Regions from separate parts of the Homo sapiens genome. Here regions 1, 2 and 3 are each linked to region 4. Evidence: fine-mapped expression QTL. A gene starts in region 4. Each other region holds a variant in brackets. All regions are shown on one strand. Distances are from middle to middle.

What was found. PIP is the estimated chance that this variant, and not a neighbour inherited with it, causes the effect.
Region 1: its variant is the best candidate, but not a certain one, in a credible set for the expression of TMT1A in whole blood (INTERVAL, PIP 0.53).
Region 2: its variant is the best candidate, but not a certain one, in a credible set for the expression of TMT1A in whole blood (INTERVAL, PIP 0.75).
Region 3: its variant is the best candidate, but not a certain one, in a credible set for the expression of TMT1A in whole blood (TOPMed, PIP 0.60).

The regions. Positions count from the first base shown.
Region 1 is chr12:50,005,633-50,010,787 of GRCh38, reverse strand. It overlaps RACGAP1 (Rac GTPase activating protein 1), which reads left to right. Exons shown (of 17, transcript NM_001319999.2): 3 at 4,152-4,354. Among named protein-coding and RNA genes, the nearest start is that of RACGAP1, 17 kb to the left of the region's middle. The variant A/G (reference allele first, on the strand shown) is at 3,147.
Region 2 is chr12:50,868,837-50,873,991 of GRCh38, reverse strand. The region is part of intron 3 of TMPRSS12 (transmembrane serine protease 12); the gene reads right to left. Among named protein-coding and RNA genes, the nearest start is that of TMPRSS12, 28 kb to the right of the region's middle. The variant C/T (reference allele first, on the strand shown) is at 2,616.
Region 3 is chr12:50,952,441-50,957,595 of GRCh38, reverse strand. HIGD1C (HIG1 hypoxia inducible domain family member 1C) reads right to left here and starts at 5,052. Exons shown (of 5, transcript NM_001109619.4): 1 at 4,881-5,052; 2 at 4,337-4,391; 3 at 3,504-3,605. The coding sequence starts at 3,597. It also overlaps a transcript of SLC11A2 not described here. RefSeq lists an enhancer at 4,470-4,970. The variant C/G (reference allele first, on the strand shown) is at 3,111.
Region 4 is chr12:50,922,714-50,927,868 of GRCh38, reverse strand. TMT1A (thiol methyltransferase 1A) reads right to left here and starts at 2,854. Exons shown (of 2, transcript NM_014033.4): 1 at 2,333-2,854. The coding sequence starts at 2,830. RefSeq lists enhancers at 1,974-2,517, 3,531-3,740.

The DNA.
Region 1 (5,155 bases), 920 kb after region 4:
GCTAATTTTGTATTTTTAGTAGAGGTGGGGTTTCTCCATATTGGTCAGGCTGGTCTCGAACTCCCGACCTCAGATGATCCACCTGTCCTGGCCTCCCAAAGTGCTGGGATTACAAGCGTGAGCCACGGTGTCTGGCCTGTATTGTTTTTTAAAAAGCTAAGTCCGGGCCGGGCAAAGTGGCTCACACCTGTAATCCCAGCATTTTGGGAGGCCAAGGCAGGTGGATCACTTGGTCAGGAGTTCAAGACCAGTCTGACCAACATGGTGAAACCCCGTCTCTACTAAAAATACAAAAAGTTAGCCGGGCGTGGTAGCATTCACCTGTAATCCCAGTTACTTGGGAGGCTGAGGAATGAGAATTGCTTGAACCCAGGAGGTGGAGGTTGTGGTCAGCCAAGATCATGTCATTGCACTACAGCCTGGGCAACAGAGTGAGACTCCATCTCTTAAAAAAGAAAAAAAAAAAAAAGTTAAAAAAAGAGAGCTAAGTCCAAGTTACAGGAAGATCAGAATGAAAGTTAATATTTTAAAAAAGATGACTTTAATAGCATATTTTGTTGTCTTGTTTTCTCCAGTCCACACAGTTTTTATGTTCTATTTTTAATTTTTCATAAGCTGCCTGAGCTTTTTAAAAAAAATCATTGGTGTATAAATTAGGAATAAGTATAATTTAACATTTATCAGGTGCCTGTTGTGTGCCAGTGACATACTAGGTTTGTGCTACACTATGCATAGTAGGAAATAATGAAGTATATATGACATATTGCCTGTCTTCAAGAAGATTATGGTATTTTAGTTTCAGAGACAGGATTTTTTTCTCATGAAACAGAAGATAGTACAAGTATCAAAATATATGCTTTTGGGTAATCTAGAAAAATTTAGTGTGTAGCAAACTGATTAGGAAAAGATTCACAGACCAGATGGGACTTGGTAAATGGGTATGTAATAGGTAGGGCATTCCATTTGGAGTGCATAGCTTGGTCACAAGTGAGAAGGCAGGAATGCCTCTGTTCTGGGGGCAGGGACAGACTGGTTTAGCTAGAGGGGTATTTATTGCATAGTGGTGGGAGGTAAGTTTGATTAAACTGGTAAGGTGGTCTTGGATGCTGGTAAATTTAATTTGAACAGCGGCTTTTCATTCATTCATTTGTTCAACAGATTATTTCAAGTGTCTACTGTGTGCTAGGCAGGTTACAACACTGGAGATAAAAGAGCAAAGGAGACATAGGGTCTTTGTCTTTAAGAAGCTTAGAGAGGGTAGTAGGGAAGGCAAATGGAAGAGCCTGTTCAAAGGCCTCCGGGAGTAAATGGAAAAAAAAAATCAGGATTTCTGGACCCACTTAAATTTGCTTGCTGAGCTATGAACCAAATCCTGATTTTTAAATTTTAAATAAATCAAAGATCACCCTCAATTTGTTTTGAGGAAATTTCCCTTCTCTTTCCTCCTTTTTGATAGGGGCACTTCATAGTTTAGGGTGTACGTAACTTTTTAAAGGAGGTACTGTAATTTGAATTTTATAAATCTTTTTTTTTTTTTTTTTTTTTGAGACAGCATCTCACTCTGTTGCCCAGGCTGGAGTGCAGTGGCACGATCTCAGCTCACTGCGACTTCTGCCTCCTCGAGTAGCTGGGATTACAGGCGCACACCACCACACCCAGCTAATTTTTGTGTTAGTAGAGACAGGGTTTCACCATGTTGGCCAGGCTGGCCTTGAACTACTGACCTCAAGTGATCTGCCTGCCTTAGCCTCCCCAAATGCTGGGATTACAGGCATGAGCCACCGTGCCCGGCCTGAATTTTATAAAGCTTTTAATGTGCACTTCATGGCAGGCTGGTACCAAGCTGAATTGTGATTCACCAACTGACCAAAACAGTGCCATGATTATTGGTCTTCAACATCAAAATTGTTTCTGATCTATGGCCCAAAATGCCTTCTGACCCAATCCCAGCAAACTTTGCTCATAGCAGAATTGTACATAAAAATAGTATCTTTCGGCCGGGCATGGTGGCTTATGCCTATAATCCTAGCACTTTGGGAGGCTGAGGCAGGTCAATCACTTGAGGTCAGGAGTTTGAGACCAGCCTAGCCAACGTGGTGAAACCCCATCTCTAGTTAAAATACAAAAATTAGCCAGGTGTGATGGCACACGCCTGTAGTCCCAGTTACTCAGGAAGCTGAGGCAGGAGAGTTGCTTGAACCTGGGAGGCGGAGGTTGCGGTGAGCCAAGATTGTGCTACTGCACTCCAGTCTGGGTGACAGAGGAAGACTGTCTCAAAAGTGAAAAGTAGGCTGGGCACAGTGGCTAACACCTGTAATCCTAGCACTTTTGGAGGCCAAGGCAGGTGAATCACCTGAGGTTAGGAGTTTGAGACCAGCCTGGCCAACATGGTGAAACCCCGTCTCTACTACAAATACAAAAATTAACTGGGCATGGTGACACACACCTGTAATCCCAGCTACTCAGGAGGCTGAGGCAGGAGAATTGCTTGAACCTGGGAGGCGGAGATTGCAGTGAGCCAAGATTGCGCCATTGCACTTCTGCCTGGGCAACAAGAGTGAAACTCTGTCTCAAAAAAAAAAAAAGTAATATCTTTTTTTTTTTTTTTTTTTTTTTTTCACATTTCTCACCTGCACACACAAAAAGTAATATATTAATCAGGTATGTAAATGTTCTGCTTTGGGTCTGACTTAAACTAAGCTGAAGCAGTAATTTAATAAAAGGAGTATCCTAAAGAACAAACAAACCAGCAAAATTAGGTCAGATGAAAATCTTTTTATTCTCAAAATTGTTTTTCAGTTCGGTAAATATTTTGAGTGTGTATGCATACGGTATTTAGTTTGCAAACATATATGTTTTTTTCTTTAAGCTAAAAAAAAAAACCCACAAAAAAGTAGTATGTTCCAGACTAACCCAGCATATTATTTCTTAAAACTATTTGAATTGTAATATTTTTTTAATTGTTGATATCCGCATTGTTTAAGATAACTAGGTCATAATAACCTATTTTGCTGAAATTTGTGGTTTGTAAAAACTAAAGTTTCCTTATTACTTGGTTTTTCTGGAACAAATTGGTATCCTGATTTGTAAGTTTGATATTTGGTCAAATGATTAAAATTGTTTAAAAAGGACTATGTATTGTTTCT[A/G]TGCTTTTAGGTTAAATTCATAGGGGAAAAGTGCCCTTACTACCTAAGAATCTGCTAGCTGTGTGTGAATTTGGCCTAGTTTCAGTTTTAACTGGGTTAGTTTGACCAGCAGCAGATGTACACCTTGAGACCTTCTTCCTTGATGTTGGTGGAGAGTGATCCTTAGAGATAGACGGAGGTTAACTAGAAAATTGTAAGGCACTTTTGCAAATACATTGCAGAACAGCTTTGCCAATAGCAGGAGATAAGAATGAATGCCAACAGGGTTATCTTCTTCCTTTGAGATGCTGCCTTGGAAGTGATGTTCTCTTTGCAGACATTTGAAGAGACTTCACATTCTGCTATCAGGGATGTTCCAAAAGCTAGTTTGATCTTCTCTTCCTGTTTTTTTTTTTTTCAACTGGAATGTTTACATACCCTTCAGGGCAGTGTTAAACAGCAAAAGCAAATTGGCTTTTTACTTTCAAATCAATATTTGTATAATTATATAGCCAAATGGAATTGTAGGTCTAGACATCTGTAATATTAATCTACATCTACTGGAGCATATTACAGCAGTTACATTTGAATTTGCTGTTTAACATCTCTCTGGTGCAGCAATGCGTGACTGTAAAGGAAACTGTTTTTGTTTTATAGCTGTAACTGTCCTGGTGCATGACAGCTGCCCCAAAGGTATCCCCCTTTGATTGCCTTCTGTTCAGGAGCTTTCAGTGTTAGTGTTACATCTGGAGCCAGGTGACTAATGAGTTACATATTCCATAGCAGATGCCACTGGCTAAGCCAAAAGTAAGTGGCCTATTGAATAGGAATTGCTACCCACAAAGTTCTCATCAGAGTGACAAACATATCCAGGATCTGCTCCTAGTTATTTTCAGCTGGATTTGCCCATAGTTCAGCTGGTTCCTTAATTATGAATTTCAAATAAAGCTAACCGTAGGACTCATTTATTAGAGCAGTTATACTCTGTTTGGTGCTTGAATTATTAAAGATTCCCCCTTTCCTCAGAATTTATCCAGTTGGCGAAGGACTTTGAGGATTTCCGTAAAAAGTGGCAGAGGACTGACCATGAGCTGGGGAAATACAAGGATCTTTTGATGAAAGCAGAGACTGAGCGAAGTGCTCTGGATGTTAAGCTGAAGCATGCACGTAATCAGGTGGATGTAGAGATCAAACGGAGACAGAGAGCTGAGGCTGACTGCGAAAAGCTGGTGTGTATTGTTTTCCGTGCTAGAACAGTGATGATGCAGGAGGGGGAAGGCATTGTCTGACAGTTTCCACTTGCCAAATATACCTAGTTTCTTCTTCCACATTAAAGAACTGAAAGTGACCTGTTCTTTAACAGCTTGCCCATGATTAGAGCTGAAATTGCAGACTAGGAATCTTGTTCTTCATAATTTGAAATTTAAATGTTTTTGTCACTTAGACTTGAAACTTACTTAACAGACAGATTTCAAATGAGAACTTAAAGAATTAGAGGAAAAGGGAGGGAGGGAGATCCTAACGTACTTGATCTGTCACAAGTTATTGGCCATCCTTCATTGTTTATTTTAAGTGCTACCCGGAATATCCATCCTTACATGAGTAGCTGGTACTTTGTCATACATACAGGCAAGACAACTGTGACTCTTCTTTTCATCACCCCTCTCTAATTCAGGGTAAAAGGCTAGATGTATTCAACCAGTTGAGCAATGTGACTGACACAGAACACTATCATTTTGATGTGCCAGGATGGGTCATAATGCAAAGGAAAGCCTTTACTGGGAGGGACTAATCCATCTTGGTATACAGTGTTAGATGCCTCAGTAAACTCAAATTGTCTGGTTCCAGTGCATTATAGCTTTGTATCCATTTTAATGCATTTTGCTCCACTACTTTGAGAGGTGGGTGGCTGCTTTGATCCGTAGAAGCCAATATTTGTCCTGATAAAATGACACTAAAGTGTTTTTGCTATGTGAAATCTATTTTGGGACTCTCATTTTGCATTATTCTCCTCTTGGATTAGCAGGTTA
Region 2 (5,155 bases), 54 kb after region 4:
GCTATTACTAAAATTTGACCATTTATGTGTAACAAATATAATGTTAATCAGTATTTAAATACTTCTCCTGAATAATACAGGGACCTGAAACCAGTTTGACTCTGATCACCCCTCCTGAAATACCTGCCTTTCCTCCACAACTTAGACATTATTTTTATGATTTTAAGGTTTCTGTCTTGCTACTACTGACATTTTGGGCCTAACAATTCTTTGTGTGGGAGATGGGAGAACTATACTATGCATTGAAGGATGTTGAGCAGATGCCAGTAGCAAACTTATCCGCTTGCCCAGTTTTAACATCCAAAAATTTTCTCCAGATATGTTACCAAATGTTCCCTGGGGGCAAAATTATGCCCAAGTGAGAACAACTGTTGTGTACGGAGAATGTTTATTTACATTTACCTATATATTATCCATGTCTTTTTTTGTTCCTTCTTACGTCTTATACTTCCCTTTTAGCATCATTTACATTCTTTCTGATATTTCTTTTACTTCCTTGGTGAAAGACTGTTGGTAGTAAATTCACTTTTTGTTCACAGATATTATTGAATGATAGTTTTGCTGGATACACAATTGTAGGCTCATAGTTACTTTCTCTCAGCATTTTGAAGATATTTCATTGTCTTTTGGCTTTCTTTTTTATTTTATTTATTTTTCCATAGGTTATTGGAGTACAGGTGGTGTTTGGTTACAAGAGTAAATTCTTTACTGGTGATTTGTGAGATTTTGGTGCAACCATCACCTGAGAAGTATACACTGCACCCTATTTGTAGACTTTTATCCCTCGCCCCCCTCCCACCCTTTCCCCTGAGTCCCCCAAGTCCATTGCATCATTCATATGCCTTTGCATCCTCATAGTTTAGCTCCCACATATCAGCGAGAATATATGATGTTTGGTTTTCCATTCCTGAGTTACTTCACTTAGAATAATAGTCTCCAATCTCATCCAGGTCGCTGCGAATGCCGTTAATTCATTCTTTTTTATGGCTGAGTAGTATTCCATCATATATATACGTCATATATATGTACATATATATACGTCATATATATGTACATATATACATCATATATGTACATATATAGTCATATATATGTACATATATACGTCATATATATGTACATATATAGTCATATATATGTACATATATAGACGTCATATATATGTACATATATACGTCATATATATGTACATATATACGTCATATATATGTACATATATACGTCATATATATGTACATATATAGACGTATATATATGTACATATATACGTCATATATATGTACACATATACGTCATATATATGTGCATATACGTCATATATATGTACATATACGTCATATATGTACATATACGTCATATATATGTACATATATACGTCATATATATGTACATATACGTCATATATATGTACATATATATGGCATATATATATATTTTTTTCACAGTTCCTTTTTTTTTTTTTTTTTTTTTTTGAGACGGAGTCTCGCTCTGTCGCCCAGGCCAGACTGCGGACTGCAGTGGCGCAATCTCGGCTCACTGCAAGCTCCGCTTCCCGGGTTCACGCCATTCTCCTGCCTCAGCCTCCCGAGTAGCTGGGACTACAGGCGCCCGCCACCGCGCCCGGCTAATTTTTTGTATTTTTAGTAGAGACGGGGTTTCACCTTGTTAGCCAGGATGGTCTCGATCTCCTGACCTCATGATCCACCCGCCTCGGCCTCCCAAAGTGCTGGGATTACAGGCGTGAGCCACCGCGCCCGGCCTTCACAGTTTCTTTAACCACTAGTTGATTGATGGGCATTTGGGTTGGTTCCACGATTCTGCAATTGCGAATTGTGCTGCTATAAACACGCGTGTGCAAGTTTCTTTTTTGAATAATGACTTCTTTTCTTCTGGGTAGATACCCAGTAGTGGGATTGCTGGATCAAATGGCAGTTCTACTTTCAGTTCTTTAAGGAATCTCCACACTGTTTTCCATAGTGGCTGTACTAGTTTACATTCCCACCAGCAGTGTAGAAGCATTCCCTGATCACTACATCCATGCCAACATCTACTGTTTTTTTTTTTAATTTTTTGATTATGACCACTCTTGAAGGAGTAAGGTGGTATTGCATTGTGGTTTTGATTTGCATTTCCCTGATCATTAGTGATGTTGAGCATTTTTTCATATGTTTGTTGGCCATTTACATATTTTCTTTTGAGAATTGCCTATTCATGTCTTTAACCTATTTTTTGATGGGATTTTTTTTGCTTGCTGATTTGTCTAAGTTTGTTGCAGATTCTGGATATTAGTCCTTTGTCAAATGTATAGATTGTGAAGATTTTCTCTCACTCTGTGGGTTGTCTGTTTACTCTGCTGACTGTTCCTTTTGCCATGCAAAATCTCTTTAATTAAGTCCCAGCTATTTATCTTTGTTTGTATTGCGTTTGCTTTTGGCTTCTTGGTCATGAAATCCTTGCCTAAGCCAATATCTAGAAGGGTTTTTCCAGTTATCTTCTAGAATTTTTATACTTTCAGGTCTTAGATTTAAGTCCCTAATCCATCTTGAGTTGATTTTTGTACAAAGTGAGCGACAAGAATCCAGTTTCATTCTCCTACATGTGGCTTGCCAATTATC[C/T]CAGCCCCATTTGTTGAAAGGGGTGTCCTTTCCCCATTTTACGTTTTTGTTTGCTTTGTTGAAGATCAGTTGGCTGCAAGTATTTGGGTTTATTTCTGGGTTCTCTATTCTGTTCCATTGGTCTATGTGCCTATTTTTATACCAGTACCATGCTGTTTGGGTGACAATGGGCTTATAGTATAGTTTGAAATCAGGTTGTTTGATGCCTCTAGATTTGTTCTTTTTGCTTAATCTTGCTTTGGCTTTGTGGGCTCTTTTTTGGTTCCATATGAATTTTAGAATTCTTTTTTATAATTCTTTGAAGAATGATGGTGGTATTTTGATGGGGATTGCATCGAATTTATAGATTGCTTTTGACAGTATGGTCATTTTCACAATATTGACTCTACCCATCCATGAGCATGGGATGTGTTTCCATTTGTTTGTGTCATCTATGATTTCTTTCAGCAGTGTTTTGTAGTTTTCCCTGTAGAGGTCTTTTGCCTCCTTTGTTAGGTATATTCCTAAGTATTTTTTTTTTTTTTTGCAACTATCATGAAAAGGGTTGAGTTCTTGATTTGATTCTCTGCTGTTAGTATATAGGAGAGCTACTGATTTGTGTACATTAATCTTGTATCTGGAAACTTTGCTGAATTCTTTTATCAGTTCTAGGAGCTTTCTGGAGGAGTCTTTAGGGTTTTCAAGGAAAATAATCATATTGTCAGCAAACAGTGACACTTTGACTTCCTCTTTACTGATTTGGATGCCCTTTATTTTTTTCTCTTGTCTGATTCCTCTGGCTAGGACTTCCAGTACTATGTTGAAGAGGAGAGGTGACAGTGGGCATCCTTGTCTTGTTCCAGTTCTCAGAGGGAATGCTTTCAACTTTTCCCCATTCAGTATTATGTTGGCTGTGGGTTTGTCATAGATGGCTTTTATTACATTGAGGTATATCCCTTGTATGTTGATTTTGCTGAGAGTTTTAATCATAAAACGATGCTGGATTTTGCCGAATGCCTCTTCTGCATCTATTGAGATGATCATGTGATTTTTTTTTTTAATTCTGTGTATGTAGTGTTTCACATTTATTGACTTGTGTATGTTAAACCATCCCTGGATCCCTGATATGAAACCCACTTGATCATGGTGGATTATCATGGTTTTTGTTTTGTTTTGTTTTGTTTTTTGTTGTTGTTGTTGTTTTGAGATGGAATCTCCCTCTGTTGCCCAGGCTGGAGTGCAGTGGCACAATCTTGGCTCACTGCAACATCTGCCTCCCGGGTTCAAGCAATTCTCCTGCCTTAGCCCCCTGAGTAGCTGGGAGTCTCCCTCTGTCGCCCAGGCTGGAGTGCAGTGGCACGATCTCAGCTCACTGCAACCTCCGCCTCCTGGGTTCAAGCAGTTCTCCTGCCTCAGCCTCCTAAGCAGCTGGGATTACAGGCGCCTGCAACCATGCCCAGCTAATTTTTCTAATTTTAGTAGGGACAGGGTTTCACCAAGTTGGCCAGGCTGGTCTCAAACTCCTGACCTCAGGTGATCTGCCCACCTTGGCCTTCCAAAGTGCTGGGATTACAGGTGTGAGCCACTGTGCCCAGCTGGTGGATTATCTTTTTGATATGTTGTTGGATTTTGTTAACTAGTATTTTGTTATGGGTTTTAGCACCTATGTTCATCAGGAATAGTGGTCTGTAGTTTTCTTTTTTGGTTATGTCCTTTCCTGGTTTTGGTATTAGGGTGATGATGGCTTCATAGAAAGAATTAGGGAGGAATCTGTCTTTCTCTATCTTGTGGAATATTGTCAAAAGGATTGGTAGCAATTTTTCTTTGAATGTCTGGTAGAATTCTGCCATGAATCCATCTGATCCTGGATTTTTATGGTTGGTAATTTTTAAATTACCATTTCAATCTCGCTACTTTTTATTGGTCTGTTCAGGGTATCTATTTCTTCCTGATTTAAGCTAGGAGGGTTGTATTTTTCCAGGAATTTATCCACTCCTTCTAGATTTTCTAGTTTATGTGCATAAAGGTGTTCATAGTAGCACTGAATGATCTTTTGTATTTCTGTAGTGTCAGTTGTAATATCTCCTGTTACGTTTCTTATTGAGGTTATTTGGATTTTCTTTCTTCGTTTCTTGGTTAATCCTGCTAATGGCCTATCAATTTTATTTATCTTTTCAAAGAACCAGCTTTTTGTTTCACTTATCTTTTGTATTTTTTTTTTGTTTCAATTTCATTTAGTTCTGCTCTGATCTTCGTTGTTTCCTTTCTTCTGCTGGGTTTGGGTTTGTTTTTTTTTCTTGTTTCTCTAGTTCCTTGAAGTATAACCTTAGAATGTCAGTTTGTGTCCTTTCAATCTTTTTGATGTAGGCATTTAGGGTTATGAACTTTCCTCTTAGCACCACCTTTGCTGTATTTCAGAGGTTTTGATAGGTTGCCTCATTATTGTCATTCAGTTTGAAGAACTTTTTAATTTCCATCTTGATGTTGTTTTTGACCCAATGATTATTCAGGAGCAAGTTATTTAATTTCCATATATTTGCATGGTTTTGAAAGTTCCTTTT
Region 3 (5,155 bases), 30 kb before region 4:
TGTTTTTAGTTTCAGTTTCCAGATGCTTCTTGTTAGTATATAGAAATGCAAATTTTAATCTAAATGTAAGGATCGATTAAAAGAAGAAATGCAGGCTGGGTGGGCATGGTGGCTCATTCCTGTAATCCCAGCACTTTGGGAGGCTGAGACTGATGGATCACTTGAGGTCAGGAGTTTGAGACCAGCCTGGTCAACATGGTAAAACCCTGTCTCTACTAAAAATACAAAAATTAGCCAGGTGTGGTGGCGCATGCTTACTCAGGAAGCTGAAGCACGAGAATCGCTTGAGCCCAGGAGGTGGAGGTTGTAGTGAGCCAGGATTGTGCTATTGCGCTCCAGCCTGGGCGACAGAGGGAAACTCTGTCTTTAAAAAAAAAAAGAAAAAAAAGCAAGTAATTTTTATGTGGATAGCATGTTTGGAATAACTATGTTGGCATATGTGTGTCTATGGGTGGGTAAGGATATATTTATTCTTTCATGATCCATTTAATAAATGGAAATAAGAATCAGTAAATCATTACATTTACATGTATATTTTATACACTGATCCACAATAAATAAAAATGACTAATGTGCTACAGACATAAAAACAGCAAAAAAAAAAATAACAAAATGATGATGGTAGACATATGAGGAAACAGGTAAAACCCTGAAAGCTCTGTAAGTTTGGCCAAGTCCTTCTAGAAAGAACTCTGGAAATATATAACAAATGATATTAAACTGAACATGCTTCCTGCTCTGGAAATTCTACTTCTGGGAACATACTCCAAGGAAATAACCAAAAGAAAAATCAAGAAAATGACACAAAGATGTTCAGGGCTACACTATGTTTGAGGAAAACCTAAATAACCCAAACAGAAGAAAAACTGCCATTGCTATAAAAATAAATAAGAATAGGGAGTATTAATACACAGAAATGCACGTATGAGCTGTTAAGTGAAACAAGCAAAGCCAAATAATCTGTCAACACATACTTTAAATAGATATAATGCATGCAGAGACCTTAACAGTGATTGTAAGATGATTTGAACAGTGTAAATATATTTATAATGATGGAAGTTGCTTAAGATAACCAACAAAAAATGTTTTGTAAGTTACCTGCATAGGACCCTCCATCCTGTAGCAGGAAAATACATAGTAGATATTGTTAAAATGACAATAGCTAAACAAATTATTCAATGATATATATCCAATTTTTTTTTCTAAGATGGAGTCTCGCTCTGTTGCCCAGGCTGGAGTGCAGTGGCGCAATCTTGGCTCACTGCAACCTCCACTTCCTGAGTTCAAGTGATTCTCCCGCCTCAGCCTCCTGAGGAGCTGGGACTACAGGCGCCTGCCACCACACCCAGCTAATTTTTGTATTTTTAGTAGAGACAGGGTTTCACCACATTAGCCAGGCTGGTCTCAAACTCCTGATTTCAAGTGATCCACCCACCTTGGCCTGCCAAAGTGTTGGGATTACAGGCATGAGCCACTGTGCCCAGCCTACCAAATTTTATCATTATTTATTTTTTAGCAAAAACTTATCTCTATTCCCTTAATCAAATGAAAGTTCTGTTCTTACTTAAATTGGTTTTGTTTCTTTTGGAGATTAAAGTCAGAACCTTTACTGTTTTCCATATAGTGTCTCTAGTTTGTTTATAATTGAATTTAGCTGGAAACACTTTTATCTTTCCACTTTAATCATCCTAAATGTCTCTGGAAAAATAATTTAATATACAACAGGCACAGTGGTGCGTATGTCTCTTTGTCTCTGTTTATTAATTAATTTCTGTTCATTATAGTGATCTGTTCAAGTAGCATTGAGTTTTCGAATTTTTTTTAACTAAAAATGCTAAGGAAGATAAATCACTATTAAATTATTTGCTTCCATTTCTTATGGGTGCTATTATAAGTCTTAAAACTTCTAAACAGAATATTACTGTAAAGTAAAATTTGATTCTTTCTTGATATGTGAATAATGACACTTAGGAAGTTGCTAGAGTCAGAGTAACACTTAACGGGAACATCTGACATACCTATTTAGAAGTTTTTATGGAATTAATATTTTTGCAAACTTATGTCAGTCTGATTTAAGTAAACTATTTTAATAGTTTCCAGACAAAATGAACACAAGGAAACAGGCATGGCTGCAGTATACATCCATGGAGAAGAAAGAGAAAGCTCAGACTTCAAAACATAATATTGGTGCTTAGGTTTTGTGGGGTTTTTTAAAGTCCACATACACATAATACTTGTTGAAAATGTAAACATACTAAATATGTGTGGGGAAAGGATAAAGAGGCTAAGGGTCCAGATTATTAGGTGATCTAATTATAGTATCTCTCTTTTTTATTTTTTGAGATGGAGTCTCGCTCTGCACCCAACCTCTACCTCCCGGGTTCAAGTGATTCTGGTGCCTCAGCCTCCTGAGTAGCTGGGATTACAGGTGTGTGCCACAATGCCCAGCCAACTTTTTGTATTTTTAGTAGAGATGGGGTTTCACCCTATTGGCCAGGCTGGTCTTGAATTCCTGACCTCAAGTGATCCACCTGCCTCGGCCTCTCAAAGTGCTGGGATTACAGGAGTGAGCCACTGTGCCCGGCCTAATTATAGTATCACTTCTTTAGTCCAGAATTTATTTTGCCATCAAACTCAACACCTGGAGCACACCAAGAAGCCAGCACAGAGGGCCACTGAGCAGCCAAAATGACCACTCCAAAGTTCATGCTCACAAGTGTTCAGATAGATCCAGGCTTTTACTCAGAGCTTTCCTCTGAATTGACCCACAGTTCTTTCAAGCTTGGTTATCTAGCTTCTGGTGCTACAGAGCATTAAAAACATTAGATGCAGAAGTTTTTGGTTTTTTGTTTATTTGTTTGTTTGTTTTTGAGACAGGGTCTCACTATGTCACCCAGGCTGAAGTGCAGTGGTGTGATCTTGGCTCACCGCAACCTGCACCTCCTGAGCTCAAGCAATCCTCCCACCTCGGCCTCCCAAAGCGCTGGGATTACAGGCATGAGCCACCGTGCCCGGCCTAGAAGCAGAAGTTTTTAATGTGCCCAATAGTAAGATAGAAACAGAAAAATCTATAAACAGAAGATGTAAGAACTTAAAGTTTAGATTACTTA[C/G]AAGACAAAGAGACATATGCATCTCAATAGTCCCTAATAGGCTTTAAATATAATAAACTGATGCTGCTGTTGATGGTCCTGAGTTATGACTGAAATGTTAATATTCATTCAATCTATTCCATTTGACTGGCTAGGAACTAATAATTTTAGGTAGACTTCTAATGAAATGGATAAAATAGAATAAAATTTGATGCCTCAAATAACAGCTAACATTTACTGGGGGCTTACCATGTATTAGGAACTATTCTGAAAGTTCAACACATGCTTAGAGGAGGTTAGCTTCAATTATCTGAAAAAATTCAATTATAAGAAACATTTCAATCCGCAAAGGCACTGGGTAAGGCATCATTGTGTTATTACAGTTTTCTGCATCCAGTCAAGGCTTGTACTTACCTATAGGGACAAAGGGGGAGTCTCTAGATTTCCTGATTAGTCGGGATAATTGGCCTTCATCCTCATCTGCTGACCACTGGTTATCTGAAGACATTTTTTTCTCTAGTAACAATAGGATATAAATGTGGTTGCCGTGAATCATTAAAAATAATTTGTTTTTCCTCTCCCATCATACTCTTGATTATGTGTTTTTTTGTTTTCATTTGTTTGATAAGCCTATCTGCTCAACTGAAACAATTGTCTTTCCTTCACACTTTTCACTACCGAATTTTTTCATTTTGCAGGGGAAGGGGATAAGAAAAAAATACATAGAGGAAATGATAATCAGATTTCATGAATACAGAGTAAAAACACAGATCATAATGCTGTTATTCAGTCTCCTTTCCACTGCTCAGCATTTGAGATCACTGGGAACCTCAGGACTTCTTCCACAAGCACTGTATTTGAAGAACACATTTTCTTTTTAAAGTATCATTTTAAAGAAGTATGGCAGTGCCAACATAGGCAAAAATACTTCCAGATTTACAGGTATTGGGAGAATGATCACTTCAACTCTGCAGAATGTGCAGGGCATTATAAAGTCATTCAGATATTTACCAAGCACCTACTGTGTGCCAGTTGCTATGCTAGACAATGGATTCCTTGTCTAGCCTGGCTTGTCTACATAGGATGAATGAAGAAACTTGCAAAAGCAACTATAATCACAACAGATTTAGCAGCGCCTGAGTCTGTTCCCTGTGCAGCTTATTGTGTTCACCCCAGAATTCAAATACAGCGGCTTCATCCTATGAATGAGACTTCATCAGAAAACTTAAGCGTAAGAAGCACAATACCTGTGGCACACCCCGCCACCTGCTGTCTGTCTCCTGTTGTTCCTTCAGCAAGAGGCTGTAGATCAGAACAGGTGTTTGTTGTAAGGCCAGGACACGATGTGCAATTTCCAACTAATTGATAATGGGAAAGCCCAGAAACACGCCCCAGGGGACTGGGGGAGTGGTCGGCTGGTATTGGCCAAGATTTCCAGCACCCTGCTAGAAACTCACCAGTAGCAGCCTGGGCCACAAACTAGGCTTTTGAAGCCAACATTAAGAAAAACATGAAGGCTTTGGAAGAAGATGCATTTGCTTAAGTCTGCCTTCACAAGGGAGCTCCTGACTTCCCTCTGTGACTGTTGAGTCTTAGTACCTGACTCCTGGGCCCAAAATTGAGGGGAAAGAGGGCACAGGGTCACAACACTGGGCTTGGAGGGGAAGGGGAGAAGATAGCCATCAGAGGCCAGGATTCTTGCCATCCTTCGGAAACACGCCCTAGCCAGAGGAGGTGCGCTCCCTGCAGTTGGAATCTCCGGCTGAGGCGATGAGAGCCCGCCGGGCTCACCTGGCGGTAAGGCCATCGCAGGTGCGCCTCCTGCAAAGCCTCGAGCTGCACACGCGCCCAGGGGAAAGACGTGACGTTGCTGCACCTGTGGCTAGTCCCTGCGCCTGTGTGTGAGACCTGAGTGGGGCTGTGGAGACCCGAGAGGCTGTGGCTCTTGAGGTGGGTCGGTGGTGGACGTGGCCTTTGCTTCTGTTCTGACCTTGTAGCCTTGGGGCCCCTTGAGACCTTGGAGAACACCTTGCTCACCGCCTCCCTCCGACTGCAGCCATGTGGAC
Region 4 (5,155 bases):
TGGGCGACAGAGCAAGACTCTGTTTCAAAAAAAAGGAATATTTGCATTTGCATTAAAGAGAGCCATGTCTACTAGCTGTGTAACTTTGGGCAAATTCCTTAATCTCTCTGAGTCTGTTTCTTTGTCCTAACATGAAGATATGTACTTTAGAGGACTGTTGACAGGGTTAAATGAAAATGTAATAAAGTTCCCTTGTTATATCCAGCAGAGAGTGGGTGCTTGGCAGGAGCTAAGGAAGACTATCACGAATGTGATAACTTTAAGAGTTCAATTGATTTTTGGCACTGGAAAACTGAGATAATAATTACCTGCCTTGCAGCGGTGTTGGGAGATTAGTAACACTGTAAGCAAAACATCTACTAATGTGCCAGTTGGTGCCCAGTCTTAGCATATAAGAACCCAGCATTTGGGTATAAGAATCAGTCCTTTTTTATTTACTACTCTGATATTGAGCCAAGACAGGATTGTATGATTTTCCCTAAACCCTATCTCCAAGTTCTTTTCTTCCTGAGGAACTTCCTCTATTAGAAAATAAAACTGATGGTTGGGCATGGTGGCTCACACCTGTAATCCCAACACTTTGAGAGGCCAAAGTGGGCAGACCACTTGAGCCCAGGAGTTTGAGACCAGCCTGGGCAACATGGCGAAACCTCATCTCTACAAAAATACAAAAACTAGCTGGGTGTGGTGGTGCATGCCTGTAGTCCCAGCTGCTGGGAGGGTGGGGAGGCTGAGACGGAAAGATTGCTTGAGTCCAGCAGGTCAAGGCTGCAGTGAGCTGTGATCATGCCACTGCACTCCAGCCTGGGTGACAGAGGGAAACCCTGTCTCAACAAAAAATGAAAACTGGGGATTACAAAACATGCCTTTCCCCCAGAAGAGTAAATTCAAATGTTAAGATATCCATATCTTCAACTTTGTTCAGAATATAAAACGATTTTAAACTAGCTAAAAATAATAAGGGTAATATGTGAAAACTACATACAGGTATAAAGAATTACAGACTTTACGGAAAGGTTTAAAATGAAAAGTAATTCTTTCCCTGAATCCAATCCCATTCCCCAAAGGCAACCACTGTTAATAGTTACTTGTCTGTCATTCCCATTAACTTATACACATATATGTATCTCCTCTCCCTGCCTCACACAATGGGCATGTGGTGGGCCTACGCTCTACCTAACATTCTGTGGCTTGATTGCTTTTTGTTTTCATTAAACATTATCCCTTGGGGATTTTTAAGTATCAGCACAGATAACTCTTCTTGTTCTTTCTGACAGCTGCACAGTGTTCCTTTATACAATATGACAACTCACTTACATAGCATCCTATTGATAGACATTTCAGTTATTTCCAGTTTGTGCAATTACAAATTCTACTTAATATTCTTGTGTATGGACAAGTTTTTGCATGTGGATAAAAGAGTATGTGTGGTTTAAATTTTGATATTATCAGATACCACCCAAAGAGGGTACCTCTTCTAATGTGTATGGTGGTGTCCAGTCCCCTAAACCCACCCCAACCCTATACTGACCTTAAAAGAAGTCCCTAACAGTATAATAGGTAAAATTAGTATCTCCTTTAATTAACTCTTTAAGTTTGAGCACTTTTGTCCTATAATTGGTTTACATTTCTGTTCCTGTTATTTGCCCATTTTCCCTTTTGTTTTTCTTATTGAAAAATATTGATCTTATTGACATGTAATGTCTTTTAACATGAGGGAAGTTAACCCTTTGTCTATCATCCCTGGCAAATATTTTTTCCAAGCTTGTTTTGTAGTTTAACTTTGTTTTGGGGAGTTTTTTTTTCTTATTCTTTTTTTTCTTTCTTTCTTTTTTTTTTTTTTTTTTTTTTTGAGATGGAGTTTCACTCTGTTGCCTAGGCTGGAGTGCTGTGGTGCAATCTTGGCTCACTTTAACCTCTGCCCCACCAGGTTCAAGCGATTCTCCTGCCTACAGGCACCTGCCACCATGCCTGGCTAATTTTTGTATTTTTAATAGAGATGGGGTTTCACCATATTGGTCAGTCTGGTCTCGAACTCCTGACCTCAAGCGATCTGCCTGCCTTGGCCTCCCAAAATGCTGGGATTACAGACGTGAACCACTGTGCCCGGCCAGGAGGTTTTTTCTTTATAGCAGTTTTAAGTTTTTATATTCAGATTTATCAATCTTTCTCTTTATAGCTTCTCTCCCACGCTAAAATTTTAAAAAATTCTACAGTATTTTCTAGTAGTTTACTTTTTATGTTAAAATGTTTCAGCCACCTGAAATTGACAGGCCTGCCCTCTATGATAATAGCTGCTACTAACTAGTCCTCCTCACACCCTTTCACTCACCGGTCTCAGCACTCTGCACACCTCGCGGAGAATCCGCTCCTGGTTCTTCACAGAGCACAGCACCAGGGTGCAGACCACCACATCCACAGAGCCATCAGCCACCTGGTGCATGTTCTCCCCGGCAGCTACCACAAAGCGCTCAAACTGCAGGTGTCGGTTCTCTGCAATGCTCTTGATCAAAAACTTCTCAAAGTTGGGGTTGGGGTCAATACAGGTCACCCTGCACCCAGGTGGGTAGAACTTGAAGTTGGCCCCCGTGCCACAGCCCACTTCCAGCAGGGAGAGTTTCCCGGAGGGGCCCGCAAACTCCTGCAGGTTACTGAAGAGCTCCCGCTTCTTGCTTGCCATCTGTTCGTTGTATATCACAGTGAACCTCACCAAGAAGTAGGGGAACCATTTTTTGCATATCCAGCTCCACAAGCCCAGAAAGTTCAGCAGGTACAAGGGAAATGTCAGGATGTAAATGGCCAGTCTCAGGATAAAGATGGTAAGCTCCATTGCTCAGAAGGGAAAAAAACAGATCAACAGTTAGAGACCCGACTCCTTTAATTGCAGGAGAGAGGCTTCTGGCCACACTCCAGAGCCAATCAGCTGCAGAGGAGAAAAAGAACTGGCTGTGCTGGAAAGTCAAATCATGGGCAAGAGGCCAATTTTGCCTAATAGATGTTTGGCAGCAGTCGATTCAGCTTAGTTTTCATAAGGCAAAATGAGAAGGTTCCCAGCTTTTCCTCAGAAGGAAAGTGGATTATAATCCTTTATTCCTAATCGATTCCTGTTTCCCCTTCTCTGGGTTTGGAGACAGCTGCTAGCTTCCTGCTAGAGTTTTATAAGCGCAGTGTACTTACACCCCACCGGGCTCTCCAGTGACCTCTAAAAGAAAACAGAATTCGTGGGTGGAGCCTGGTCAAACCACACCAGAAGAGTGCTGCCAAGGCCCCTTTATCATAACACATCCCCCTTACTTCCCCCGCCCAAACCCTGTTTTTTTTTTTTTTTTTTTTTTTTTTAAAAAAAAAAAAAGGAAGTGAAAGGACATGCATGCCCGGCCACAGTCAGCAAGAATTCTCTCTTTTACATTCTGGGCAGAGGCTCTCAGTGTTCACAACTCAACGTTTTTGTAAACCAAAAATAATGTTCTAAGGCCTCTAACCATCTGAATGGACTTTCTCCTTGGCCAGGGCGCTTTTAAAATTTAACTTGAGAGATTGTTTCAGGCCATGAGGGGAAGTGGGGGTCAGATATGCCTCATTATACCTCAAGCCGGCATTCACATCAACGCAGACCTTAAGTACATTTACAATCTATTCTCTCTGAAGCCTGCTACTTGGAGGCTTCATCTGCATAATAAAACTTCAGTCTCCACAACTCTTATTGCAACCCAGACATTTCCTTTCTATTGATCCCAGGTCTTTAGATAAACTCAACCAATTGTCAACCAGAAAAATTTAAAACGTACCTATAACCTGGAAGCTCCCTGCCTCGCGTCGGGTTGTCCTGCCTTTCTGGACTGAACCAATGTATTTCTTAAATGTATTTGATTGAAGCCTCATGTCTCCCTAAAATGTAGAAAACCAAGCTGTACCCTGACCACCTTGGGCACATGTTCTCAGGATTTCCCGAGGGCTGTGTCACAGGACATGGTCACTCATATTTGGCTCAGAATAAATCTCTTTAAATATTTTACAGAATTTGACTCTTTTTGTTGATATTTTAAAATCACTGTTTTGGGCTGTACTTCCCCTTTTAAAACAATTTTTGGCTCAAGGAAGTCAGTTTGTGGGCTGCCCTTCTTTTAAAGGACAAGCCTCAGTCTTCAAAATGTGCCTAACTACTCGATTACTCAGCTAATTTGGATAAAAATATTTCCCAGAATATTCACATTTGGGAGCCAAAGGGATTCAGAAAATAGTTTCAAGCATCCATCCGCTTTTTACAAGAAAGCCCGAATCTGGGCACAGTGGTGGGTGCCCATGGTCTCAGCTACTGAGGAGCTAAGACAGAAGCATACCTTGAGCCCAGGAATTCAAATCCTGTCTGGGCAACATAGTGAGACTCTATCTCTTTAAAAAAAAAAAAAAAAAAAAGAAAGAAGAAAAAGAAAAAGGCCTGAGCTTTAGGGTGGCTAGGGAACACAGAAAAAAATAATTTTTTAAAAATAGTAAACATTTACTTTAAAAAACTGGGTGATGGATACAGGGAGTGTTCTGTTGTTTCATGATTTGTTATAACCTGCATGTATTTTATAAATATTGTATCTATTCCATTTTTAACAGATTTTTTTAGGTGGAATTGACATATAATAAACTTTACATATTTAATGTGTACAGTTTGATAAGTTTTGACATATCTATATACCTGTGAACCCATCACTTCAGCCAAGATAAATGAACATATCCATCACCCCTAAAAGATTACTCTTGCTCCATTGTGATCCTCCCTTCTGCATTCCTAATCCTGAGGCAATCAGTGGCCTGTTTTCTGTCTGTGGCCTGTTTCCTTTCCTTTTTTTTTTTTTTAAATGAGCAGCAGCAAGATTTATTGTGAAGAGCGAAAGAACAAAGCTTCCACAGTGTGGAAGGGGACCCGAGCGGGTTGCCCTTCTGTCTGTTTTTGAAAACAGGATCCAGGGAAGAAACTGAGCAACTCCACAGGACTGGAAGATTCTAAAGCCCTCAGCAAAGGAGAATGAAAGTAATTTTGTAGAGAATTTAATTATTCTTTTTAAAATGGAGAGGCCTATGGCCACAAAGTTTGCTTGTAAGAAAAGTACCAAAGTAACCCCAGACATAATCATTAAGAAAATTAAAATACTTTTGGGAACCT